Homo sapiens: one gene and its partners. The protein of the gene in region 2 interacts with the protein of the main gene of each other region in a pairwise test. Each region holds a gene or a part of one and is shown on either strand. Other genes may lie near its edges. The genes, in order: MAP2K1, TCP11, GRAPL and NPFFR1.

Evidence for each region.
Region 1: the proteins of TCP11 (region 2) and MAP2K1 interact in binary tests that used the Homo sapiens proteins (3 or more experiments, as listed by UniProt).
Region 3: the proteins of TCP11 (region 2) and GRAPL interact in binary tests that used the Homo sapiens proteins (3 or more experiments, as listed by UniProt).
Region 4: the proteins of TCP11 (region 2) and NPFFR1 interact in binary tests that used the Homo sapiens proteins (3 or more experiments, as listed by UniProt).

The regions. Positions count from the first base shown.
Region 1 is NC_000015.10:66,480,912-66,487,911, reverse strand, and holds part of MAP2K1 (dual specificity mitogen-activated protein kinase kinase 1), read right to left. Parts: intron 6,158-7,000; coding exon 6,033-6,157; intron 2,923-6,032; coding exon 2,721-2,922; intron 685-2,720; coding exon 620-684; intron 1-619. UniProt on the Homo sapiens protein: Dual specificity protein kinase which acts as an essential component of the MAP kinase signal transduction pathway.
Region 2 is NC_000006.12:35,124,325-35,131,358, forward strand, and holds part of TCP11 (T-complex protein 11 homolog), read right to left. Parts: intron 4,859-7,034; coding exon 4,738-4,858; intron 4,468-4,737; exon of another isoform or gene 4,254-4,467; coding exon of another isoform or gene 4,233-4,253; intron 4,096-4,232; exon of another isoform or gene 3,959-4,095; intron 1-3,958. UniProt on the Homo sapiens protein: Plays a role in the process of sperm capacitation and acrosome reactions. Probable receptor for the putative fertilization-promoting peptide (FPP) at the sperm membrane that may modulate the activity of the adenylyl cyclase cAMP pathway.
Region 3 is NC_000017.11:19,137,576-19,144,609, reverse strand, and holds part of GRAPL (GRB2-related adapter protein-like), read right to left. Parts: intron 6,145-7,034; coding exon 6,022-6,144; intron 508-6,021; coding exon of another isoform or gene 495-507; exon of another isoform or gene 1-494.
Region 4 is NC_000010.11:70,252,995-70,260,028, forward strand, and holds part of NPFFR1 (neuropeptide FF receptor 1), read right to left. Parts: intron 2,834-7,034; coding exon 1,963-2,833; 3' UTR 1-1,962. UniProt on the Homo sapiens protein: Receptor for NPAF (A-18-F-amide) and NPFF (F-8-F-amide) neuropeptides, also known as morphine-modulating peptides. Can also be activated by a variety of naturally occurring or synthetic FMRF-amide like ligands.

The DNA of each region.
Region 1 (7,000 bases), on a different chromosome or scaffold from region 2:
AAAGCAGTGCACACTAGGAGACGCAATGGCGTATCTAACCTCAGATATCCCTTCCCTTAATATGACTACCACCCAGAACCACCTAGCCTAGGTCCCCAGCAGTAGAGGATGGATGGCTTTTTTTCTGACTCCTACAAATGCAACATGCTCTGCCTCCCTCAAATCCTTAAGCAGCGACGAACTAATCCTGAAACTGCTTTTCTACAGCCCATGGTGCTTAGTATAAAGCTGTGCATACAGTAAAGAGAGGTTAAATTAAACTCCCTAGTAGACTGAACCTGTGACAGCGATGTGTTTTTTTGTTTTTTTGTTTTGTTTTGTTTTTCCCAGAGTCAACCTCCGCCTCCCAGGTTCAAGCAATTCTCATGCCTCAGCCTCCCGAGTAGCTGGGACTACAGACGTGCACCACCATGCCCAGCTAATTTTTGTATTTTTAGTAGAGATGGGGTTTTGCCTTGTTGGCCAGGCTGGTCTCGAACTCCTCACCTCGTGTGATCCACCCGCCTCAGCCTCCCAAACTGCTGGGATTACAGGCGTGAACCACTGCACCCGGCCACCTGGGTGTTTTCTTAAGATGAGCAAGTAAATTCCAAGGTGAAGGAAACCAGGCAGTACTTACCTCGTTGACTATGTAATCCAACAACTCAAAAATTGCCATGGGAGGTCGGCTGTCCATTCCGTATGCTACAAATTTTATAAAAAGAAAAAATACTTCTCAGAAACAGATTACTTGTTAATATGAGGCAAGGGGTTGGGCATGGATCCCTGGGACCAGAACAGGGTCATGGACAATAAACATTAAACAGCCACAGATAAGGCTTGAACACAGAGGGGACCAGCAAAGGCCAGGGTACAAGTCTGGGCTCTGCCACATCTTAAGTTCGTAACCTTTGGCAAATCAGTTCACTGCTGAGCCAAACAAAGTTCTGAGTTTTGTAAAGCAGAGACATAATAATTATGTCTGTCCTTTCCCCCTTCCTTCTATTGAGAGAGGCACAAATGAGATAGCAACTAAATAACTAAAGGACTTAGTTTTAATTCTCCATGAAGTTGCGTTTCTTCCTTTTGTCTCCTAGAGTCACTGGCGAGCCTCAGAGGCCACAGCCACCAGCCCCTCCAATGACCTGCCATCAGCTACCTCTAGCCCCCTCTGCTTTCCCCTTTATACAAGCTCTCTCTCATGTGGACCTCATGGAGGTACAGGGCAGGTATCCCTGGCCAGACAGGAGCTACATAAAAAACAGTTGGCTAGGTCAGGCTATTCCCTGAGTACCAGGTTTACTTCCCAGTATTCACATTCAGAGAGGCAGGTGGTACTGCACAGTGTTTATCATCTTGGGAGTCAGACTTGGCTACTTGCAAGCCTATGTGGCCTTGACAAGTGCACTGTGCCTCAGTTTCCTCATCTTTAAAATTCAGATTATAGTCGTGATCACAAATGAAATGCTATTAAAATTATATAATGCTAGGCAAATCCGTGGACACAGAAAGTAGATTAGTGGTTGTCAGTGGATCAGGCAGGGGGGAGTGGGGGATGGGGTTTCTTGCTGGGGTAATGAAAATGTTCCAGAATAAGACAGTGGTGATGGCTGCACAACATGGAACAATACACTAAAAACCACTGAACTACATGCTTTAAAATGTGAATTTTGTCTTATGTGAATTCTATATCTCAATAAAAAATAAATCTACCAAAAGTCATGATTAAAAAATTAGAATGCAGTGGCTCATGCCTATAATCCCACCACTTTGGGAGGCCAAGGCAGGAGGATCACTTGAGCCCAGGAGTTCCAGACCAGCCTAGTCAACATAGTGAGACCTCATCTATACAAAAAAATTAAAAAAATTAGTCAGGCATGGTGGCGCATGCCTGTGGTCTCAGCTACTCAGGAGGCTGAGGCAGGAGGATCACTTGAGCCCAAGAGGTCAAGGCTGCAGTAAGCCATGATGGCGCCACTGTACTCCACCCTGGGTGACAGAGCAAGACCCAGTATCAAAAACAAAACAAAACAAAAAAAACCCACAAATTAGAAGCCAGTCATGGTGGATCATGCCTGTAATCTCAGCATTTTGGGAGGCTGAGGCGGGAGGATTGCTTGAGCCCAAAAGTTCAAGACTAACCTGAGCAACATAAGGAGACTATATCTCTACAAAATAAACAACAACCTAGCTGAGCATGGTGGCATGTGACTGTGGTCCCAGCTACTCAGGACGCTGAGGTAGGAAGATCACTTGGGCCTGGGAGGTTGAGGCTGCAGTGAGCTGTGATCATGCCATTGCACTCCAGCCTGGGTGACAGAGTGAGCCCCTTCCCTCCCAACCCCCGCAAATAAATTATAACCTGTAGTCCCAGCTACTCTGGAGGCTGAGGGAGGAAGACTGCTTGAGCCCAGGAGTTGAAGACTGTGACTAGCCACTGCACTGGGCGACATAGCAAGACCCTTAATAATAAAAATAATAAATACAAAAGGTTAGATAATGTATAAAGTCCTAAGTGCAGTACCTAGAACATAGTACGTACTCAACAAATGGTAGGAAGTTGTTGGTAGTAACAACACCCACCTGGAGACCCTTGCTGCTTCCCCTGGCCCTAGCCTGGCATCCAGGGACAGAGAATCAGTCTTGGCAGAATGTACAGAGAATCAGCCCTCCAGAAACCCCTGAAAGTAAGGGACCCTCCCCTCCAACAGTCCAAGATGGGGACACACCAGGCTACTCACAGCTAAGGGGCCTCCCGGGGGTCCTTGGCCTGGGTGGGGTCTCAGCCGCATCTCCTTCCACCTGGCACCCAAACATCAGCTCCAGCTCCTTGGCATCTGGAGGAGGGATGGGATACCTCCCAACCGCCATCTCTACCAGAGACAGTCCCATGCTCCAGATGTCTGACTGCACAGAGTAATGAGTCCCCTGGAGTCTTTCTGGCTGCAGGAGAGACAGACAGTGATAATCACCTAACCTAACTTGGACCCCTGGGTCTGCTAATGCATTTTCTCTTCTGTCCCTTCTCAATAGTTCATATCCTGTTTCAAGAGCTCCACTAACCTCTTGAATTTGGCCTCCTGCCTACCCCCAACACTGTGTTTACCAAATCCTAGCTGGCTTCTGTGGCTTTAACCCCTCATCCCTGCTCTATTTCTCCTATAATCTGGCCTAAATTGACAGACCACATGTAATCAGCTGTGCCCTGGCTGCCACTACAGCCTGTGGTTCCAGCTTTACCCAGCTTGGCCACAGTCTTGCACACGCAGGGCAGCCTGTCCGAAGCCCAGCATGAGAGGCTCATCTTGTCACTGAATCTGAAACATGAAGCTTGTGGAATGCGGGTTGGGAGTGAGGTGGTGCCGTGGATACATAGAACAAAAGATCTGGGGTCAGTGGGCCTGAGACTTAAATCCCAATTCCGGGACTTACAAGCTAAAAGATCCTGAATATCAGCCTCATCTATAAAATGGGGCTGCTGCTGGGCCGGGACGCAGTGGCTCACACCTGTAATCCCAGCACTTTGGGAGGCTGAGGCAGGCGGATCACATGAGATCAGGAGTTCGAGACCAGCCTGGCCAACATAGTGAAACCCCATCTCTACTAAAAATACAAAAATTAGCTGGACATGGTGGTGCATGCCTGTAATCCCAGCTACTTGGGAGGCTGAGGCAGGAGAATCACTTGAACCCGGGAGGCAGAGGTTGCAGTGAGCCAAGATCGCACCACTGCACTCCAGCCTGGGCAAGAAGAGCGAAAACTCCATGTCGGAAGAAAAAAAGGTGGGGGGGGGTGGTGGCTGATGATGATGAAAATGACAGTAACAATGATATAAGAAAACTCTACTTAGGATTACTAAGAAGATCAAATCAAATGAAAATGTACAGCCAGGCGCGGTGGCTCATGCCTGTAACCCCAGCACTTTGGGAGGCCGAGGTGGGTGGATCACAAGGTCAGGAGATCGAGACCATCCTGGCTAACACGGTGAAACCCCGTCTCTACTAAAAATACAAAAAAATTAGCCGGGCGTGGTGGCACACGCCTGTAGTTCCAGCTACTCGGGAGGATGAGGCAGGAGAATGGAGTGAACCTGGGAGGCAGGGCTTGCAGTAAGCCGAGATTGCACCACTGCACTCCAGCCTGGGTGACACAGTGAGACTCCGTCTCAAAAAAAAAAAAAAAAAGAAAATGTATGTCAAATGTTGTAAAATGCAATACAAATATTGGTTGATATTGGTGGGAAAAGCCAAAGAGAAAAAAAGTATACAGTGCTATACAAAAGCATTATTTTTAATGAGCATTATTTGAAATAGCACATGTATTTCAAGAACCCTACCGAAAAAATCTTTATTCTGCCCATAGTATATTCACGTAGACATTAACTTCTCCAGTAGCATTTTTCACTAACTCCAACACTGGACTATTTCGTAACTGACCATATAACCACAAAAACCCCAACCATTAAACCCTTGATTAGTAACTCCCAGGGCCTGTTAATGGATTTTGAACTTGAGAGTTGGCAGTCAAATGGCCCAGGATGCCAGCTGCTCAGTTATTAGACATTTAGGGAAGAAGCAATGAGGAGATGACAGAGAAAGAGAGTTCCACTGTGGGTCACTGGAGGGGAGGGGTGGGGATGTGGGTCAGTGCCAGGTGAGTGATGTTGACAGTGGCTGGAGTCACAGTGGGGGGTAGGTGCCAGCAAGAAGGAATGAGGATGTGTTCACACTGGGATCTGGGCACAGGTGCCAAATCCTCCCCAAGAGGCAAATGAGGGTGTGCTGTGCAAAGGGCGTCTGCCTGGCAAGGGGGCAGCTAGCTTTCAATCCTGGCTCAGCAAGGTTAAGTAGGCAGGTTGCTTAACCTCCCTGAATCTAGACTTCCTCACCTCTAAAATGGGAACAATAATCTTTATTTCCTGGGACAACCACATGGATCAAATGAGACCTTCCAGGGACATGACATGTGCTTTGACAGAGAACACATAAAATGCTTTGTACAAGTTAAGATCTGAGCCTCTGCGCCTGTCCCCCTCTCCACGCGGGCCTGCACTCCCCGCCACTTCTGTAAAGACTGCCTACTCACTCCAACGCTCCTCCACTTTGCCGCACTTCAGCACTGGCCCAGACTCACGTTTCCACCTTTCCAAATCATTCTCAGAAATGTTTTATCCATGTACCCTCCCACTCAGCCAACTAAACATCTACCCACTTGCCAAGCATTCCCTGAACACCTACCACATGCCAGGCCCCATGCCAGGCACTAGGGACAAGAGAGACACCTTGTCCCTGTCCCCAAGGAACCGGTGGTATGGAGGAGGGAAGAAAACACGCTGGTGCTGCCATAGTGTGAGGATGGCCCCACACAATGCTCTGGTGACAGTGTGAGCCAGCAGAGCCAGGAGCAGGAGGAAATACCCTCAACACAGGGTGTTGGCTGAAGTGGAGCAGAGACTCTGGCGAGGGGTCCAGGTATGCTGCAGTTAGAAGGAGGGGTACATGTCTGACAGACATAGTGAGGAGGGAGAAAAGAGGCTGGACAATTCTGAACAGACTCTCAGGAGTTGGGAGCTACAAGATACTGAAAGGACGGGCTGCTGAGAAGGCAGGTTAAGAGCCAATGCTCAGGTTTCTACCTTGGGAAACCAGGGAGATGATGCTGTCTATTTACTGCTAAGAGAAAAGGAGAAGGTGAGGTAGTTTGGGGTGGATTATATCTGAGCATCCTGGGTTTGTGGATCTGAAGACTATCATGTAGAGATGCCCAGAGGGGAGCTGGAGCTCACAATCCTTCAGAAAGAAAGCCACACTCTGGAGCTGGACAGTCCTTTCAGTGAGTCAAGGCCCCAATATCCCAGTTATGCTCCAAGGCCTAAGAAAGACCAAGACCATCTTCCCATTCAACTTCATCTCCTCAGGGCAGAGCACTGTGCCTCCTCCCTCACTTCTTGTCCCCTACCCAGCACAAGACTCTGGCTCCACAGGAAAGGCACCCACTGGGCTCCTCTCCCTGACCGTACAAGAAGCTCAAGCAATGGAAACTTCTGTTCATACCGACATGTAGGACCTTGTGCCCACGAAGGAGTTGGCCATGGAGTCGATGAGCTGCCCGCTGACCCCAAAGTCACAGAGCTTGATCTCCCCACGGGAGTTGACTAGGATGTTGGAGGGCTTGACATCTGCAGGGAAGAGAAAATAGAAAAGGAGGGAACTGACACAGGTAGATTGGGGAAGAGAAGGATCAGCATTCCACACAGACCAGCCCTGACCACGAGTCCCAGGACCACACCCCCGTCCGCCATCAGAGGCAGCCCTTGGCTTGCAAACACTGTACACCAAGGCCCTTTGTTCTGAGTTCAAGAAGCAACTGTCAGGAGATGAAATGAGCAGCTGCTGTAGAAGTAGAACAGAAAGACAGTCGATTTCCACTCTCTAAGAATGCAGACTTGGCCAGATGATCCACAGGAAGGAGTCCGTTATCATGAACAGTCAGGATTTCAAAGTCTGTTGCTTCAACCACCCCTACTGGTAAGATATAGTATCTATGGCTGGATCATGAAGGAGGCAGAAAAAAACAAGTAATAAGACCTATCTGCTTGCTGAGGCTACACAGGCTAGAAGGGGACAGGGTTTGGCGGGAATTCCCATTCTAGACTTCTGCACCAGGCATGGAGCATGTGGGTCTTTTTCTTACAAATATGTGTGGCAGGGTGGGAGCTGAGTCATGATTCCATTCCATTCCACTGGAGTCACTCACCTAACAGCCTACACAGGTACATCTACCCTGCCAGTCAAGGGGAACCCCTTGCTACCTGGAGCTGGAATGTGAGAGGCCTTAAAGCTGCTCCTCAGAGTCAAAACGATGCCCCCATCCCCCTTCCTTGCACTCTTATTATCACCCCATCCCACCCATCCGGTCACTGTCACAAATACCAGTACATTGGCCCTTAGTTTGCAGAGACCTAAATTTCCAAACATTTTTTCTTCCGCTGTATCCTCTGATTCATACAACTGTCCTGTAA
Region 2 (7,034 bases):
GTCCATAGCAAATAAGGGTGCTGTACAGAATGTCTTGCAAGCACCAATAAGGGAACCACACATGGACCTTTAGGAATTGGGAGCAAATCTATTCCTTCTTTAATGATAATTATTCACCTTTTGAGAAACAACTTCTTGGGCCTTGGTAGAAAGTAAACACCTTACTATAGAACACTGGGTAACCATGTGGCCTAAGCTTCCCATCAGGAATTAGGTATTGTCTAACTTACGTAGCTACAAGACTGGACATGCACAGCAGCAATCTATTATCAAATGAAAATGGCTTATAAGAGACCAAGCATATACTGGTAATAAGAACAGATACACAGACCAAAAGAATAGAGAGCTGATAAATAAAACCTGGATATATAAGGTCAAATGATTTTCAACAACAATGCCAAGAACCAATGGGGAAAGGACAGTCTTTTCAACAAATGGTGCTGGGAAAACAGGATATTCACATGCAAAAGAACAAAGTTGGACCTTTACCTTACCCCCATATAAAAATATTAATTCAGTTGTGCACATGTACCCTAAAACTTAAAGTATAATAAAAAATATATATATATATTAATTCAAAATGGTAGTGGCTCACGTCTGTAATCCCAGCACTTTGGGAGGTCGAGGCAGGCGGATCACCTGAGGTCAGGAGTTTGAGACCAGCCTGAGCAAAATGGTGAAACCCCATCTCTACTAAAAATACAAAAAATTAGCCGGGCGTGATAGTGCACACTTGTAATCCAGCTACTACTTGGGAGGCTGAGGTGGGAGAATAGCTTGAACCAGGGAGGCAGAGATTGCAGTGGCCAAGATCGCACCACTGCACTACAGCCTGGGTGACAGAGCAAGACTCTGTCTCAAAAAAAAAAAAAAAAGAAAGAAAAAAGAAAAAAAGGACCTAAACATAAGAGCTAAAACTACAAAACTCTTTGGAGAAAACATAGGTGTAAATATTCATGATCTAGGATTTGGCAGGATTTGACACCAAAAGCATAAAATTCAATAAAAGACAATCCAATTTAAAAATGGACAAAGTACCTGAGTAAACATTTCTTTGAAGAAGATGTACAAATAGCCAACAAACACACGAACAGATGCTCAATATCACTAGCCATTAAGAGAAATGCAAGTCAATGAGATACCACTTCACACCCATTAGAATGGCCATTACCAAAAATGGAAAACAGCAAATGCTGGCTAGGATGTGGAGAAATTGGAACCCTGGTACATTGCTGGTAGGAATATAAAATGGTGTGGCTACAACAGAAAACAGTTTGGCAGTTCCTCAAAAAGTTAAACATAGAATTACCATAGGATCCAACAATTCCAACTTTAGGTATATACCCAGAAAAATTAAAAGCAGGGACTCAAATATATACTTGTACACAAGGTTTACAGCAGCATTATTTACAATAGCCAAAAGGCATAAAGAACCTAAACGTCCATCAACAGATGTATGAACAAAATGTATTCTATCCATATAATAAGAATATTATTCAGCCATAAAAAGGAATTACATTCTGATATATGCTACAATATGGATGGACCTTTAAAACATTACACTAAGTTAAACAAGTCCAAAACTAAAAGGACAAATATTGTATTCCATTTATAAGTACCTAGAGTAGTCAAATTCATAGAGACAGAAAGTACAGGTGCTAGTGGGAGAGGGGAAAGGGAAATTATTGTTTAATGAGTACAAAATTTCTGTTAGGGAAGATTCAAAGGTTCTGGAAATGGATAGTGGTGATGGTTATATTGTAAATATACTTAATGCCAGTGAACTGTAACACTAAAAAATAGTAAATTTTGTTATGAATATTTTGCCACAACAAAAACAAATCCTAAAAAAAATTAAATAAATTTTTTAAAGCCCCCAATATGGCCCATTCCCCAGGGAGGATCAGTCAGCCATCTTATGGCAGATGATTTCACTGGACCTCTAACAGTTTAGAGAGGGCGAGATTCATCCTTACTGGGATAGACACATATTCTGGATATGGAGTTGTCTTCCCTGTTTGCCATGCTTCTGTCAGTACCAGCATCCAGATAATCACAGAATGCCTTATCAGCTGTCCTGGGTCTTTGCCTACTCCATTGCATTGCATCTGCTCAAGGAACTCATTTCACAGCAAAGGAAATGCAGTGAATTCATACCTACTAAATTAACTGGTCTGACCAAAAAGCTTTCACTGAGAATCAGCTGGCCCTAACTAAAAAGTAGAATGGCTTATTTTAGACTCAATTACAGCATTAGGTGAGCAACAATACCTGAAAGGAAGGGAATTGGTCTTACAGGATGCAATATATGCTTTGAATCAAAGACTTTTTTTTTTTTTTTTTTTTTTTTTTGAGACAGGGTTTTGCTCTGTTGCCCAGGTTGGGGCACAGTGACACAATCATGGCTCACTGCAACCTGTGCCTCTCAGGCTCCAGCAATCCTTCCGTGTCAGTCTCCTGAGTAGCTGGGAATAGAGGCATGTACCACCACACCCAGTTAATTTTTCTATTTTTTGTAGAGATGGGTTTCACCACATTACCCAAGCTGGCCTCAAATTCCTAGACTCAAGCATTCTGCCCACCTGAGCCTCCCAGAGTGTTGAGATTACAGGTGTGAGCCACTGTGCCTGGCTTCAAAGACCATTCTATGGTGCTGTCCCCTAATGCCAGAATACATGGGTCCAGGAATCAAGCAGTAGAAGTAGGACTGCTTCCTCTTACTAGCACACCTGATAACCCACTTGCAGGATTTTTGTTTCCCATCCTGCCAACTTTGAGGTCTGCTGATTTGTGTGAAATACTTGCATTGGTTCCAATGAAACAGAAGATGAAACTGACCATTGGGGGCTCCTTATACCACTGAACCAAAAGGGTAAAAAAAGGAGTTACTGTACTGGATGCCGTACTTGCTCCTGAGTACCAATGAGAAATTGGATTGTGGCCACACAATGGGGGTAAGAAAGACCATGCCTGAAACTCAGGAGATTCTCTGAGTTGCCTCTTAGTACTTCCAAGCTCAATATTAAAGGTTAATGGAAAACCACAACAAACAAAGCAAAATGTCTCAGACTCTTTGGCAATGAAGGTTTGGGTCACTGCACCAGATAAAGAACCCCAACTAGCTGAAGTTCTGGCCAAGGACAAGGGAAATATGGAATGAATGAATCGTGGAAGAAGGAAGCCATAGATAACAACTATAGCCTTGTGACCAGTTATGGAAACAAGGACTATAAATTTTATCTTTGCTTATTATATGTATGTTTATTTATATATGCCAACATTTTGTTCTTCCTCTTTCTTTCCATTGTTATTTTATATACAAGTTGTTAGAAGTTAAATTTTATGATTTAGCCTTTAGGTAACACAATAGTCAGTGAAACTGGCTGAATTTGAGGAGCGGCCAGTGATGGATACAATAACTATTTGGGCCATGTCTCCTCATTTTGGGGGAGGATAAATAATAAATAGCTATCTGTCTTGTAAGAGTTCTTTTCAGGAATTCAAATGTGTATAGAAGAGCGCATGTGGAAACTGAGTAGCCGAAGGGGTGGACTGTGCCATTTATCAATATATTGCCTCACAGATCCAAATCCATTGTTCTTTGCTCTGTGAAAATGGAACTAAGTCCTTTCCATATCTTTCCTTTGCCAGATAGCACATTTTAAGCTTCACCGGCAGAAAGTGTTATTTAGTTTTCTGTGCTGTGTAACATACTGCCATAATCCTAGCAGCTTATAAGAACACACATTTATGATCTCAGTTACTGTGGGTCAGAAGTACAGACGCAGTTTAGCTGGGTCCTCTGTTCAGGGTCTCACAAGTCTGCAAGCAAAGTGTTAGCTGGGCTGCATTCTCATTTGGAAACATGACTGGGAAAGATTCCGTTTCCAAGCTCATTCAGATTGTTGGCAGAATTCATTTCCTCACAACTGTATACTTGAGGGCCCCAGCTTCTTACTGGCTATTGTCTGGATGCTAACCCCGGGTCCTAGAAGCCACCTGCAGCTCCTTGCTATGTGGCCCTCTCGATAGGCAGTTCACAACACAGCTGTTTGCTTCTTCAGGGCCAGCAGGAGAATCTCTCCCTCCAGTCTCCTAAGACAGAGTATTACATGATGAAATGTAATCATGGGAGTTATATCCCATCACTTTTGCCGTACTGCTTAGAAGTTGCAAATCTCATCCACTCAAGGGGAGAAGATTATACAAGGGTGCAGAACATTGTGGGTCACCTTACGGTATGTCTGCCACATACTAGAAAGACATTGCAAAGGCAAGAGCTTTTATTCCCGGTTCTGGTATGTTCACTCAGCAGGCTCCTGCAGTACTTGGCTCCTGCAGCATGAATAGCTTCTCCAGTGCTTGGTTCCTGCAGTGCACTGTGGTCAGCAGCATACACAGGCCAGTAACGTCTCATGGCATAGCTATGCCCTCTCAAATGAGGTCCTTGGTTGGCCTCTCTCAGCCCTAAGGGTATGATAGATGCCCTTTTATCTGATATTCAAGGATTCTTTAGTTTTCCTTACTCTTACTAGCCAAGCCCTCATTTCTCCTACTCTCTGTTATAATAATTTTTATATTAAACCCTCCCTGCTAAAATTACTGTATGATTTCTGTCTATTGCTTAGTCTCTGACTGATTCATGGACCATGTTCAGTTAAGATTTGCTAGCCACTGACACTCCAATGAGCTGGAGATGTCTAGAAACTTTACATTTACAAATGGAAGGTCACTCACCTCTTTAATTTCTTTCAGAAGTTCAAGAGCACAGCTGAAGTCAGGGGGAGTTGCTGATAGTTGCTCTTTAAGATGGTCCCAAAAGGCATTGTGCACTGTCTCCTTGACCTTGCCTTCCAGACTATAAGAGGGTTAAATGAGCAGATTACTCTCTCAACCCAAAAACAGTTACAGTGTCATAACCTCCTAAACCCCAAACTGAATTTGATATGGTAAAAGGCCATTATAATAACAGGGAAAGGCCAGGAACTATGTTGGAACTGCAGCAGAGTTGAACAAGCTAGGGTTAGATTTGTATTTCAAGGGCAATGGCAAAACCTCTCAGAAGGGCTCCTTGTGGTTCCAGAGCAGCCCTCTCTCTGCAGTAGAAAGAACCCTGAATGGAGAGAAGTCAGGCTGACTTTTAGCACTGACTGTGCATCTAGCCTAGATAACTTGATTTCCATTTGTGTATACACATAGCATTGAGCTAAATGATCTTTCATTTTCTTATACTCCTGAAATCTAGGAAAGGATATTGCTTCTTTGAAAATACCAAAGGTCCACAGATATTTCCAAATCAGCGTATCTAAAACTAAATTCATTATCTTCCTCCTCCAAACCTGCTCCTCTTGTATTCCCAATTTCAGTGGCACTACCATCTATATAGTAATGGAAGCCAGAAAGAAGTCTTTTTTTTCACCTTGAAAAAAATACAAGGAGCAAAGGAAATTTGTTTTATTTTATTTTTTGAGACAGGGTCTCACTCTGTTGCTCAGGTTGGAATGCGATGGCACAATCAAGGCTCACTGAAGCCTCAACCTCCCACGCGCAAGCAAATCTCTTGCCCCTGCCTCCTGAGTAGCTGGGACCACAGGCATGAGCCACCGTGCCAGCTAATTTTTTTATTTTTTTATTTTTAGTAGAGATGGGGGTCCCGCTATGTTGCTCGGGCTGGTCTTGAACTCCAGGGCTCAAGAAATCCACTTGCCTCTGCCTTCCAAAGTGCTGAGATTACAGACGTGAGCCACTGCACCCAGCCAAGGCAATTCAATTTAGAAATGAGGGTCTTTCAACAAATAATGTTGGAACAACTAGATATCTAAATACAAAAAAATAAAGAATCTAAACACAAGCCTTAAACTCTTCACAAAAGTTAACTCAAAATGGATCACAGACCTACTTGTAAAATACAAAACTGTAAAACTTGTAGAAGATAACATAGGAGGAAATATAGGTAACCTTGAGTTTGGTGATGACCTTTTAGATACAATGCCAAAAACATAATCCACAAAAGAAAAAATTGCTAAGTTGGACTTCATTAAAATTAAAAACTTCTGCTCTGTGAAAGACACTGTTAAGAGAACAAAAAAACAAGACACACACTAGGAAACAATCTTTGAAAAATATATATCTGATAAGGATATATATCCAAAACATACAAAGAACTCTTAAAACGCAACAATAGGAAAATGAACAACCATTAAAAAATAGGCCAAAGACCTTAACAGACATCTCACCAAAGAGGATGTTCAGATGGCAAATAAGTATATGAGAAGACGCTCAACATCATTTGTCATTTGGGAGTTGCAAATTAAAACAACAAAAAGAAAAAAAAAAGACACCGCTATATGACACCTATTAGAATGGCCAAAATCAGAAAACTGACAACACTAATGGCTGACCAGGATATAGAGAAATAGGAACTCACATTCACTGCTGGTCAGATGTAAATGGTACAACCAGTTTGGAAGGCAGCTGGGCAGTTTCTTACAAAAGTAAATATACTCTTACATATGATCTGGCTATCACGCTCCTGGGTATATACCAAAATGAGTTGAAAGCTTATGTTCACACGAAAACCTGCACACAAATGTTTATAGCAGCTTTATTCATAAGTGCCAAAACTTAGAAGCAACAAAAATGTCCTTCAACTGATAAATAAACTGCCCATAAAATGGAATATTATTCAATGATAAAAAAATGATTTGGGAGGCTGAGGCAGGTGGATTACTTGAGGTCAGGGGTTCAAGACCAGCCTGACCAACATGGTGAAAACCTATCTCTACTAAAAATACAAAAATTAGCTGGGTGTAGTGGTGTACGTCTGTAATCCCAGCTACACAGGAGGCTGAGGCAGGAGAATCGCTTGAACCCAGGAGGCAGAGGTTGCAGTGAGCCAAGATTGTGCCACTACACTCCAGCCTGGGCAACAGAGCGAGACTCCATCTCAAAACAAAAAGAAGGCCGGGCGCGGTGGCTCATGCCTATAATCCCAGCACTTTGGGGGGCCGAGGCGGGCGGATCACCTGAGGCCA
Region 3 (7,034 bases), on a different chromosome or scaffold from region 2:
AGTGGGCAGTGCCGGGGGTGTGAGAGCGTCTCCATTGTGTCTGAGTGTGCATTCCTGGGATGCTTGTGTGTGTGTGTGTCTGTGTGTGTCTCCCACTGTGTGGAGTGACTGTTATGTGTGAGTCTCTCACTGAGCAATCATGAGTATCTTTGTCTCTCTGTGTGACCCCTACATCCACCTACCCAGGGGAACAAGGGGCTAGGCTGACCCCTGGGCTGTCAGAAAAGCCCCAAGGACCAAGTCAGGCCTAATGCTGGCAGCAGCCAGTCCTGCCCAGCGAGTTTTTCTGGCCTGGTGGCGGCAGCAGCAGCAGCAGCAGCAGCAGCAGCAAAGGTAACAGTGTCAGCCCAGAGAGGAAAAACAAGGCTGGGGTGGGGGCAGGAGCCCTAGGACACCCCCTCCACCACCCCAACCAGGGCTTGTGGACGTGTGGACCCACCTGGGTGCTAACTGCCCGCTGGGCGATCTCCATCAGGCATGGCCCCTCTCTGGCCTCAGTTTGCCCATCTGTGAAAAGGAGGGGTGGAACAACCTGTTCGGCAGCAGACAGGAACCAGAGTCAAGCTGAGCTTGGGAGGGGCAGGACACTGGTGCAGACAGACTCCTGCTGGGTCTTTGGAGCTCAGGGAGGGTGGGTGGAGGACAGACCAGGTCTGTCAGGGCACAGAGGTCGGTGGGCACCAGCTCTAAGTTCCTCGCTGTGTGACCTTGGGGAAGTTGCTGCACCTCTCCAGGCTTCAGTTTCCTTACCTGCAAGCTGGGCTTCTGGGGATCAGGCAGGTCTCCTCACTTCCTCCCTGTCCTTGCCTGCAGCCAGTCCCTTCCTCCTAAAATTGCACCCCCCCTCCACCACTTCCCTGCTTCATTTTCTCCAAAGCCTTGGTCATTGTGTAAGATTTTATACAATTTCCTAATCACTTATTGTCTGTCACCCAGTAGCACATGGGCACTTGAGGGACAGAGAGCTTTGCCCTATTTTGTTGCTGGCTGAATCCCCAGGCCCTGGGACAGGGCTGGCACACAGCAGGGGTTCAGTGACCAGATGGGCAGGGCAAACACATGTGCATTGACTCCAGGGTACCTCTGGCTAGAAAGGAGGCAAATATGTCACTTGGAGACAAACTGTCATTTATGGCAGAAGAGTCCACAGTAGCTTGGATAGGAGTGTGGGGCAAAAGTTAGGCAGCCCAGACATTGCACGCCAGCCTTGGCCCCTGGCCCGCTGCCCGCCAGCTCAGACATGCTCCCTGGAGGAGGAGGGGGACAGCCCTTTGTAAACTCATAAAGGGCAGCTAGCTATGGCCACAGTTGCTCTAGGAGGCAGCATGAGGCCCATAAACCCCACCTCTGACAGCTTTACAGGGCTTGGTGTGAGTATGCCAGAGATGCCATGCATAGTGCCATCAGAGTTCCCAAGTACCAACCAGCAAGGGTGGAAGAGCTCTTACACACAAATCTGCCAGGCTGTCATTTTCCGAGGTGGCCATCAGGTCACCCGGCTTCCCAGCATCTGGGTTCCCTGACTCCCTGTGCTGCTGCCTCTTCTCTAAGAGTGCTGGATTCATGGGCAGGGGGTGGGGGGCAGCCTTCCAGGCCAGGAGGGGCTCCCTAATTCCTCCCCAGCTTGGTGTGCAGTCCTTGGAGCCTTAATATAATTATGATAACTGGCACTTATCATGTGCCAGTCATCATAAAAAACACGTTACATAGCTGTCCATTTTATAAATGAGGAAACTGAGGCTCAGAGGGGTAACTTGCCCAGGATTATACAGCGAGCAGCTAGCAGGTGTCAGAGCTGACTGTTGCTCAAAATACCATGCTCTTAGCCACATGCCCCATTTGAGTCTCAGCTTCCAACTCTGACCCCTGCTTGGTGGTTGTCCAAGGACCACTGAGAGGCCCCATGACAGATGATGGACAGAATGGGAGCAGGACCCAGGAGCCTGGGCCCAGGCAGGAAGAAGCCAAGGGTCAATGGCTCCACCTGCTGGTGCTGTGTACAACCCACAGCCAGCCAAGCCCAGGAAGCTCCTGACAGTTTTGACCTGGGCACACTTGGCCAGTATGCCTTGGACAAAAGGTTCGGGGGCACAGGCCAGGATTTCTCTGAGGGTCGCTTCCAGATCCCTTCCCAGGAAACACCGGTGCTGGCTCGCCTGCTCAAGAACTGCTCCCTAAGACTGTCCATCTTCCCTCCTGGTCAGAAAACACGTTGTTATCCAAACACACCCCTCGCTTCCCCACCTCTAGATCTCTACTCATGCTGTTCCCTGTGCCTGGCATATCATCTACTCTCCTTGTGCGCCAAAATCCTACTCATGCTTTAGAGCCCAACTCAGATGTCACTTCCTCCCTGGTGCCTTCACTATGTGGAATGTATCCACTGTCATTGAATTTCATTTATTCATTTGCTCATCATAGAGACCCCTGGGCCAGGCTGTGACCATTTCCCCTTCACATGCCTCTGGTTTGTCTCCTGTTTCAGTCCTGCCTTGTGGTTTTCACACAGCTGATGCTCAATAAATGCGTGCTGAGCAAACTCACAAGGCTGGGGTGTTCAGGTCTGATCATGTGCGTGTGCGCAGGTGGCTGCACTTACAGAGAGACGCCTGAAGAGGGCAGCACACTGGGGCGCTAACTTGGAGAGTGAGGCCGCGTGATTTGTTAGAGGAGGAAGCCGGAGGGCGGAGGGAGGGCCAGCCCCTCCCCCTCAACTCGGGCTCCAGACGTAGTTTGAGTCCCCTGTGCCCCCACTTTGCTGGGTGACCTTGGGCTTTGGGGTTGGTTCCAGGAGCCACTCAGCCAGGCCAGCCCGCCTGGCGGACGCCATTCCCAGGAGATGACCAGGCCCTGGACAGCCGACACTTGGAAGACTGCCACGTCCTGCCTCCGCAGGAGCCGCAGCTCCCCGGGGCTGCAGGGAAGTGGTGGCTGGGCTGGGGGGGTGGGGGGTGAGCCCGCGGGGACTCCAGGCTCCAGGTGCCCACACCATCCCGGGGGTGGGCAGTCAGGGCCAAGAACGCACAGTAAACCCCCAGCACACACAAGCGCACACACGCACATGCTGACAGCACTCGCATTTTTAAGATGGGGAAATAGAGGCTCAGAGGGGGCATGCGCGTTCCTGCCCCTCAGGATCACCAGCCTGCCCCCAGGAGAAAAGGGAAGGGAACAAGGCTGATGGCTGGTTCCACCAACTGGGCGCCCGGGCTCAGGGTGAATGTGGGGGGCTGTGACCCCTGAGACGTTGGATCTGCCTCCCTGGTATGGTTTGGATGTTTGTCCTCTCCGAATCTCTCACTGAAACGTGACTCCCAGTGTTAGAAGTGGGGCCTGGTGGGGGGTGTTTGGGTCATGGGACAGACCCTCATCAGTGGCTCTTTGCAGTAATGACTGAGGTCTGGTTGTTGAAAAGAGCCTGGCACCTCCCTCCCCGACTTGCCCCCGTCTCGCCATGTGATGCGCCGGATCCCCTTCCCCGTTTACCATGCGTAAAAGCTTCCTGAGGCCTCACCAGAGGCACATGCCGGTGCCATGCTTCCTACACAGCCTGTAGAACACCAAGTCAAATAAACGCCTTTTCTTTATAAATTACCCAGCCTCACGTGTTCCTTTATCACAACACTAAATGGACGAACACACCCCTAGAGCCGCCTTCCTGACCATAGGCTCCTATTCCTTGCGGGTGCCTCCAGGCTCAGGGGAGCTCGCCACCCTGCAGGGCTAGCAGCAGACGTGCTGATCCCACACAGTGAACAGCTTGAGCTTGTTTCAAAACAGGCCGGCTGAACACATGGGAGTCACAGGGACCCGGCAGAGCCTGGAAGGCATCAGGTGGGTGGGAATGCTTTTCCCCCAGCAGGAGCCCTCATGGGCTCCTGGCCCAGCCTGTCTGAGTCTGCCTTTGTCTGCTTCTTTGGGACCCCCTGACTCCAAGCCCCATCAAGCTTGCATCTCCACACCCAGCCCCAGTGTTAGCTATCGACCCAGGCCTGTATTTCTTTGTCCTTTATTTTTATTTTTATTTTTATTTTTTGAGACAGAGTCTTACTCCATCACCCAGGCTGGAGTGCAGTGGCACAATCTCGGCTCACTGCAGCCTCTGCCTCCCGGGTTCAAATGATTCTCATGTCTCAACCTCCCGAGTAGCTGAGATTACAGGCGTGCGCCACCATGCCTGGCTGATTTTTGTATTTTTAGTAGAGACGGGGTTTCAGCATGTTGGCCAGGCTGGTCTCAAACTCCTGACCTCAAGTGATCCACCCGCCTTGGCCTCCCGAACTGCTGGGATTACAGGCGTGAGCCACCACACCTGGCCTTCATCCTTTAGGAGATCATGAGAGGCCACTCTGCCCTCCTCTGGGGCCACCCCTTCCTTCATCCCTTCCTCCCGGCTGGACTCTTTACCACCCCAGTGCTAGCTCCGCTGGTGGCAGTAAGAGCTGGCATGGTAAGCGCCTCCTCCATTCCGGGCTCTGTGCCCACAGCAGCCCTGAGAGCTGGTACTGCTGGTGGTCCCCCCGCACACCTCCATGCCTGGGCCCAACCATTTCTCTGTGTCCCCTCATCAGCCCCTACCCGTACAGTCCCAGAGGCCATCATCTCCCTCCTGACTCCCCACGGGCCTCCCTGCCACCACGCTCTCCCCCAACAGTTCTTTCTCCTCACAGCACTCAGAGTCATCTGCTAAAAATGGAGTCCAATTACATCTCTCCCCTGCTCAAGACCCTCCATGGCTCCCTATTGCTCTGAGAGAAAACCCGACCTCCTTTCAGGCCCTCTGTGATCACTGGATGTGGGTGGAACTCCAGCCCCTGCCCTTCGCTCACTCTGCTCCAGCCACGTCACCTCCTCCGGGCTCCTACATGCCCCAATCACATTCCCACCTCAGGGTCTTTGCAAATGCTATTCCCTCTGCCTAGAAGCCTCTCTTCCCAGGTCCTCCTCATTCCTGGGCACCTGGGAAGCCTCCACCTCCTAGTTCAGATCTTTGCTGCAAGGCCACCTCCTCAGAGAGCCCTTTCCTGACCACCTTGGTTCATTCTGTATTAACATGTTTTCTTGTTCACTCACAAAGACTGAAACCCACGACAGCAGCAACTTTGTTTTTTTTCCCATTTGGTTTCCCCAGCCCCTAGAGCATCCTGGCACATGGCACCTAATCAATAAATATTCCTTGAATTAATGCATCTAGATTCTACCAAGGCCTAAGAGTAGGAAGGACAGAGACTAACTAGGAGCCTGACCCTGTCTACCCCCACCCCCATTCCTGCTGCTACTTTCCAGCCTGGATTCCTCAATCACTCCAGGGTGGCCCTTTAGGATTGGATTCTGTGCTGCCCAGAGGCTGCCACACCACAGCTGAGGGCCGCCCTAATACAATGCCAGATGTTCCCCAGCACGGCCACCCTGCCTCCATGCCAGGGACTATTCTAATTGCTTTAAATATACCAACTTGTTTCTTCCGTGCAATAGCCTATTTTACATGTGAAGAAACAGGCACAGAGAAGGTAAGTGACTTGCCCAAGCTCACACAGCCAGGAAGTGGCAGAACTAGCATTTGAGCCCAGGCAGCCTGGCCTCAGGGTGCATCTTCCCAACTATATCACATAGAGTGGGACCCTGTGCGGAGCACATCCTGGACACCCGCCCTGGGCGTTTCAGCACTCTCCTGCCCTCAATCTCTTGCCACATCACCACCCTGGACATCGCCCTCTCCTGATGAAGAACCTATGATGGCTCCTATACTCGTAGAAGCCTGGACCTTCAGCCTGGCATTGAGGCCTTGCACAGCTGGCCTGATCCTGCTTTCCCAACACACCCCACTGCTCTGGGCTGCACCCTGGGGTGCCCAGACCACCGCCTGTGTCCGGAAGGCCTCTGCCCGGACTGCTCCCTCTGCAGGGATGCCATTCCTCCACCCTCACTCCGTGAGCCCGTCCCGGGCCCCAAGGCTCAGCTCAAATGCTGCCCAACCCCGCCCACCCTCCTCTGCACACACCCCCAAGGGCCAGAGCTCACTTCACAGACACAGAGAACTCCCCTGGGGAGCTCTCACTCTCCCGGATCAGGAAGGCTCCCAGATGGTTCCGCTTCATCAGAATCTCTTCGGCCAGCTGCCGGGAAATCCTGCCCGAGTACCACCTGCGGAGAGAGGGAGCCGGTGAAGGCAGTGTGAGACCAGGCTCTCAGCCAGCCTCCCACCCCGTGCCAGGTGTTCAAGGTCTGAGACAAGGGAGATGTGATTGCACCCATTTTACAGATGGGAAAACTGAGGCACAGAGAGGTGAAGCAATACACCCACAATCACACAGCAGAGGCAGGCAGGAGCTGGAACACAATCCCAGCATTTTAGCTCCTGAGGCCAGCCTCTCCTACCATGCCAGCAAACACATACCCTTATGGAAACAGAAAAGTCACACTCCAGTGAGCCACACCCCAGCCAACCTCAGTCTAACTTTCCCTTTGAGATGGTAGATTCTTTAAAGTCAAAAAATAAATCAGGCTCGGTGGTGCGTGACCGTAGTTCAGCTACTCGGGAGGCTGAGATGGGAGGATCACTTGAGGCCAAGACTTTGAGACCAGCCTGGGGAATAGAGAACCTCCCACCCCCATTCCTTAAAAAAATACTTCTGGCCGGGTGCGGTGGCTCCCGCCTGTAATCCCAGCACTTTAGGAGGCCGAGGCGGGAGGATCACGAGGTCAGAAGATCAAGACCATCCTGGCTAACACGGTGAAACCCCATCTCTACTAAAAATACAAAAAAATTAGCCGAGCGTGGCGGCATGCACCTGTAGTCCCAGCTGCTGGGGAGGCTGAGGCAGGAGAATGGCATGAACCCAGGAGGCGGTGCTTGCAGTGAGCCGAGATCGCACCACTGTCCTCCAGCCTGGGTGACAGAGCAAGACTCCGTCTCAAAAACAAACAAACAAACACTTTTTTTAAAAAATAGAGTCTTGTTCTGCCGTCCAGGTTGGAGTGCGGTGGCATGATCTCAGCTCACTGCAACCTCCGCCTCCTGGGTTCAAGTGATT
Region 4 (7,034 bases), on a different chromosome or scaffold from region 2:
GCCTGGAGTCAGACTTCTTCACAACAAATAGCCCAGAACCAGCTGGGAACTCTCTGGCCCATATGACACATGACACTGATACAGTACCAGAAATGCATGGCACCAGCTAATACCACTGAGGGGCAGGAGGGCATACTCTCTCTCAGACCCTCATCCATCACCCCCAGAACCAGGACAAGGTCATGATGGCTCTTGGCAGCCTGCTCAGCACCAGGGCAAGAACAACTCAGGCTGGACATTACGAGAGTAAACACAATAGATTTCTTTCCCAGACCAAGAGCTTGGGCACCAGGAGTGGGCATTCTGGTTCACTGTTAGGCAAAAAAGCCTTTGGGGAAATTACCAGCTCTCCCGTCATCCCCACCTTCCTTGAAAGGCAGCATGTGGGGTGGGAAGAACAATCAGAAGACAAATTTTAATCTAAATCCTGCCCCTCTGTGGCCCTGGAAACTTGGCCCCTTTGAGCTTCAGTCACTTTGTGAAATGACAATAACATTCAATCTCCTTCAACCTCATTACTATGGATTAAATGAGACGGTGTCTGGGGACATGCTTGGAGAATGTATTGTACAACTGCTTAGGAATTTTCTTCTGCCCCTAAACCTGGAACTTAGAGTGGAGCAAACAGTAAACAGTCACTGTGTGTCGGTTAAGGGAACAGAGCCTCAGAGCCCCGACCCCTGGAAACGTTTCTTTTTTGTTTACTAAATTTCTAGCAACACCGTGTTTTCTACAGAGGTGGGGGGAAATGTCCATTTAAGTGCAAGATGAAGGGGCCTGTGAAAGGACCCTCCAAGGCAATCCCATGTGCTCCCGTCTCCTGGAAAGAAGCCACATTTCTTCAAGTTGATGCAGGGGTGTTGGGGGAAAGCCAGAGTAAACAGGGCTCTCCTGGTACCTCCTTAGAGTACACAAGTCATTTGTGCTGGGGAAGAGTTTAGTGTGTGTCCTTCAGGAGTCTCCAAATGGCACTCCGGCTGCAGCTTCAGTTGACCAACTTCTCCCTCCCAGGAAGCAGGGAGGAGAGAGACCTTGGGCAAGGCTTTGTACCTGCAGCCCCAGTGAGCAGATGTGTTTCCCAATGTGGAAAATGCATACCGTGCTTCCCCTTCCTCGTTGTCTATGAGTACGTAAAAGGACACCTCCTGTGGCCCTGCAGCATTACAATGTCTGTGGCATTGTAAGTTCTTGCCTTGGTCTGGGAGTCCCTCCTCTGTTCTCTAAGCTCAGACCCAGAGGGCAAGACCTAGAGTGCCCTGCAACTGAGGCAGCCTCCCCAAGGCTCGTTCTGAAGCTGCCGTCCTCTGAGGACAATGGCTTCTTGGAACTTCTTGGAACAAACAAGACAAACCAACACATTAGAGCCGGCAGCGGGGGCACACCGTGTTCTTCTAGAAAAGGATCAAGGGGAGTGGCTTCAGTAACGGAACATGAGGGACTCCCTCACATGGACACAAAGCATCAAGGGACAGGCCGGCTTTGCTTTTCGCTTCTTCCTAGCTGCCTAATTAGGACTTACTCAGTTCACAGTGTTCTACCTTACCGGGCCCTCTTGGAGCCAGCTGGAGATGATAAAAACCACACAGGTATTGGAGTCAGATAGCTTCACATGCCATTTCCACCTGAGAAACTTGGGTGAGTCACATCTCTCCAGGCCTCAGTTTTTGCATCTGTAGAAGGAAGAGAAGACAACCTATCTCCAAAGCGTTGTGACAATTCAGTGAGATGATGTTTGTCAAGCCCACCACACAGGGCAAGTTGGTTCCTTCCCGTCCCCCGCATTTGCCTCTACTGAGGGTGAAGGCAGCAGAGAAGACATCACCAGCAGCTGCCCACCACTGCCTGGCTCTGGAGAGGGAGGGACCACGCATCCTCACCTAACCACACCAGGCCGCTATCGCCTGCATGTATCTCGTGTCCAATCGGGGCCCTGAGGCAGCGTCCCGCCCTCCCTGGACCCCCTCAGATATCCCAGGCTGGAATGGTGAGGGGCAGGTGGGAGCAGCCAGGCCCTTCCCTGGGCAAGCCGTGGTGAGCCACCCGCCCATTCCGCAGCGGGAGGCGGCCGGGCCTGGGGGCCCCACTGCTAGGGCCCGACTCAGAGGGCAGCCCGGAGTCGCTGGGCCGCACCACCACGAAGACCCGCCTGTGCAGAAGCCCGCCGGGCCGCTCGGAGTAGGCCTCCTTGTGGCTCCCCGACGGGCGCGGGCAGAGGCGGGCGCGGAAGGCGGCCTGGAAGCCGCGGCGGAAGTTCTCGTTGAAGTAGCCGTAGATGATGGGGTTGGCGCTGCTGTTGAAGAAGGCCAGCCAGTGCGCGAAGGGGAAGGCGTAGACGGTGACCAGGTGCAGCTGCGGCGCGCTGAGCTGCCCGTAGTCGATGAGCAGCAGCAGCGCCCAGAGCGGCAGCCAGGACAGCGTGAAGAACAGCGCCACCATGACCAGCATGTGCACCACGCGCGCTCTGCGCCGCGATGCTCGCGGGTCCGCAGCCTCCTCGCCCCCGGGGGCCGGGCCCGGGGCCTGGCAGAGCTTGCGCGCGATGCGGGCGTACATGACCACGATGAGCGCCAGCGGCGCCAGGTAGATGTGCGAGAAGAGCACAGTGGTGTAGACCCTGCGCATGCCCTTCTCGGGCCAGGCCTCCCAGCAGGAGTAGAGCGGGTAGGAGCGGTTGCGGGCGTCCACCATGAAGTGGTGCTCCTCACGGGTGACGGTCAGCGTGACGGCCGAGGGACACATGATGAGCAGCGCCAGGGCCCAGATGACGGCGATGGTGACGAGCGCCTTCCGCAGGGTCAGCTTCTCGCGGAAAGGGTGCACGATGCAGCGGAACCTGCCGCGGGGAGAGAGACAGGCGGGATCTGGGTGGGTCCTAGGGCCCCTGCGAGGGGACGGTGGGTGGGATGCGGGCACCTGACCTTCATCATCGCATCTAGGGCGGCGTCGAAGAACAGCTCAGACCTGAATTGGCTGAGTAGTCAAAGAACAAAGGCAGCTACAGGATTTATGAGAAGGGAGGAGGAAACCGCAGATCGTGTGGGAACAATGAATCCTGTGTGCACTTTTGCACTTTTCTCCTTTTTTTTTTTTTTTTCCTGAGACAGGGCCTCCTTCTGTCGCCCAGTCTGGAGTGCAGTGGCGCGATTACGGCTCCCTGCAGTCTCCACCTCCCGGGCTCAAGTGATCCTCTCCTCCCACCTCAGCCTCCTGAGTAGCTGGAACCACAGGAATGCGCTGCCACCTCGCCGGCTAATTTCTTTCAATTTTTGGAGAGATGAGGTCTCACTGTGTTGCCCAGGCTAGTCTCAAAGTCTTGGGCTCAAGCTATCCTCCGGCCTCGGCCTCCCGAATTTCTGGGATTATAGATATGAGCCTCCTTGCGGGGCCATTTGTGTACTTTTGGGGGTCAACTGATTAGCTGGCAGCTAGCAGAGCGATCAGAGTGCGCAGTCTGTCCTCGACAAGGACGATTAGGTGCGTCAAATAACACAGTTTCTGTTTATGGATTCTCCAGAAAACCTCAGGAGGTCAGATGTAGAGCCTACATGTCAGGCTGTCCCTATGTCATCTTGGCCATAGTATCAGTATCTCTACAATGCAAGGACAAGTCTGCACCATTTATTTCCTCATGAGGACAACTCAGCATCTGTTATTACACCCTTTATTATTTTTTAAAGGTGAGGCCTTTAAGATAGTTACTACACTGTTGATTTACAGACAAGGAAACTGGGACTCGAGTGTTAAGCAGTTGGCTCAAGTTCACATAGCAAGTTGCAAGGACCAGTCTTGAACCCAGATTTGTCTTGCTTCATATGCCATATAAACCAGTAGCTGTAAACCCTCCATGTGCATGAGACTCTCCTGAAGCATTTCAACAACAAAGACAAAACCCGTGCCTATTTTTTCAGGCCAAGGATTCCAACCTAATTAGTCTAGAAAGTGGTTTTAGCATTATTTGTTATGTGCTGTTTTTGTTTTTAAAGCTCCTGGGGTCAGGTGCCATGGTTCATGCTTATAATCCCAGCACTTTGGGAGGCCAAGGCAGGAGGATCACTTGAACCCAGGAGTTGGAGACCAGCCTGGGAAACATGGTGAAACCCCATCTCTACCAAAAAAATTAACCAGATGAGGGGATGCTTGCCTATTCTTCCAGCTACACAGGAGGCTGAGGCAGGATAATCACTTGAGTCCAGGAGTGTAGGGAAAAGAAAGAGAAATCAGACTGTTATTGTGTCTGTGTAGAAAGGGAAGACATAAGAGACTCCATTTTGAAAAAGACTTGTACTTTAAACAATTGCTTTGCTGAGATGTTGTTAATTTGTAGCTTTGCCCCAGCCACTTTGCCCCAGCCATTTTGACCCAACCTGGAGCTCACAAAAACATGTGTTGTATGAAATCAAGGTTTAAGGGATCTAGGGCTGTGCAGGACATGCCTTGTTAACAAAATGTTTACAAACAGTATACTTGGTAAAAGTCATCGCCATTCTCTAGTGTCAATAAACTAGGGGCACAATGCACTGCGGAAAGCCGCGGGGACCTCTGCCCTTGAAAGCAGGGTATTGTCCAAAGTTTCTCCCCATATGATAGTCTGAAATATGGCCTCATGGGATGAGAAAGACCTGACCGTCCCCCAGCCCAACACCTGTAAAGGGTCTGTGCTGAGGTGGATTAGTAAAAGAGGAAAGCCTCTTGCAGTTGAGATAGAGGAAGGCCACTGTCTCCTGCCTGCCCCTGGGAACTGAATGTCTCAGTATAAAACCCTATTGTACATTTGTTCAGTTCTGAGATGAGAGAAAAACCACCCTATGGTGGGAGGTGAGACATGTTTGCAGCAGTGCTGCCTTGTTATTCTTTACTCCACTGAGATGTTTGGGTGGAGAGAAACATAAATCTGGCTTACGTGCACGTCCAGTCACAGTACCTTCCCTTGAACTTAATTATGACATAGATTCTATTGCTCACAGGTTTGTTACTGACCTTCTCCTTATTATCACCCTGCCCTCCTACTACATTCCTTTCTGCTGAAATAATGAAAATAATAATAAATAAAAACTGAGGGAACTCAGAGACCGGTGCCGGCGCAGGTCCTTGGTATGCAGAGCACCGGTCACCTGGGCCCACTGTTGTTTCTCTATACTTTGTCTCTGCGTCTTATTTCTCTTTCTCAGTCTCTCATCCCACCCGACTTGAAATACCCACAGGTGTGGAGAGGCAGGCCACCCCTTCACAGGAGGTTGAGGCTGAGACTGCAGTGAGCCATGATCAGACCACTGCACTCCAGCCAAGGCAATAGAGCAAGACCTTGTCTCCAAAAAAAAAAAAAGCTCCTGGAGAAGTCTACTGTGCAACCAGAGTTGAAAACAGCTGCTGTAGGGGGAGGTAAAAACCTCCCCCTGCAGCATGGTTCAAAGACGATTGCTCAACTGCAAGCTCTGTGAGGGCAGATGCCTTGACTTTTCATCTCAGTATTCCTAGGTTGTGATTAGATAAATGCATGAATGACCAGAGGGGAAGTTACTCAAAATACTTTCTGAGCCTTAGTTTCCTCATCTGTAAAATGAAGCCCATAGTATGACCTACTCTGTTGGGTAGTTGTGAAGATTAAGTGAGATGACACTGACCACACTTCTTGAGACATTTCAAATGCTTAATAGTGAGGAAAAAGGAGGGGCTCCTATTCCCCAGAATGGCTTCTGTCATCTACTGATGCCAGAAAATAGAAACCTGAAGAATGTCCAGTCAATCTTACTTGTTTAATGGAGGGGAAAGCTTGCCCAGTGGGGGTCTTATGGTCACATGGCTGTTTGGAGTCAGAGCCTGCCCTGGAACATAGGTCTAGAGCTGACTCTCAGTCAAGTGTCCTTTCCACTTCGCTACACTGTGTCCTGCCCTCCTGCCAACCCAGTTTTTGGCCTGATAGCCTGACCTTTTACCTCTCCCACAGCCTGACTCAGGCCTTGTTATCTCAACCTATATGACTTTGACCTACTGGCTTCATACTTCACATACTCAAGAAAGCTCCAGAGAATAGTGGCTTATGTCAGCACTTTGGGAGGCTGAGGAGGGTGGATCACTTGAGGACAGGAGTTCGAGACCAGCCTGGCCAACATGGTGAAACCCTTCTCTACTAAAAAGACAAAAATTAGCCATGCATGGTGGTGCGCACCTGCAATCCCAGCTACTCCGGGGACTGAGGCACGAGAATGGCTTGAACCCGGGAGGCAGAGGTTGCAGTCAGCCAAGATCGCCATGGCACTCCAGCCTGGGTGACAGAGCAAGACTCTGTCTCCCCCCTCAAAAAAAAAAAAGAAAGAAAGAAAGAAAAAGAAATCTCCAGAGAATAAATAATTCTTAAAGCCTGTAGTGCTGGCTATGAATGCAATAGCAGTAAATGGGTGGAGGAGAATCTTGGGGTAATCTGGGCAGGCTTCCTGGATGAGGTGGGACTTGAAGAATACTGCAAACACCACTGGGAGAAGTTGTACACTCTCATTTCCTTCAACAATGATAACAAAACAAAGGTCGATGAAGGGAAGGGACTTCTCCTGATCACCCAGCTAGTTAGTGGCCTTGTGGAGAGTAGAACCCACTTCATTACTCCAGCTGCCTACTTCACTGAGTTACAAAAAACTGGGCTTGAGGTGGAGAGAGGATGTGAACACTAGATTCCACAAAGGGCAGGGTTAAGATATGCCTGTGCTGGGGAGAGAACAAGGAGGAGGGGATGGGTGTGCAGAAGAAACAACATACTATTAGCAACTGATATTTGGACTCTATGCCAAGAACTGTGCATAAGCTTTTACAAGCAGGAGCTCACTGAAGCCTCCCAACCATCCTGTAGGGTAGCTACCATTTTACAGATGAGACTACAAGGGCTCAGAGTAGTTAGGTGACCCACCCAACATGATACACCAAGGCAGGAGTGAGCAAATCTCCAGCTGATCTGCCTGCCCACCTTTCCCTGGGGTGAAGCACCCAGAGGGTGCCCTTCCCCTGCTAACAATGCTGTGGGGGAGGAGCACTCATGTAGTGCA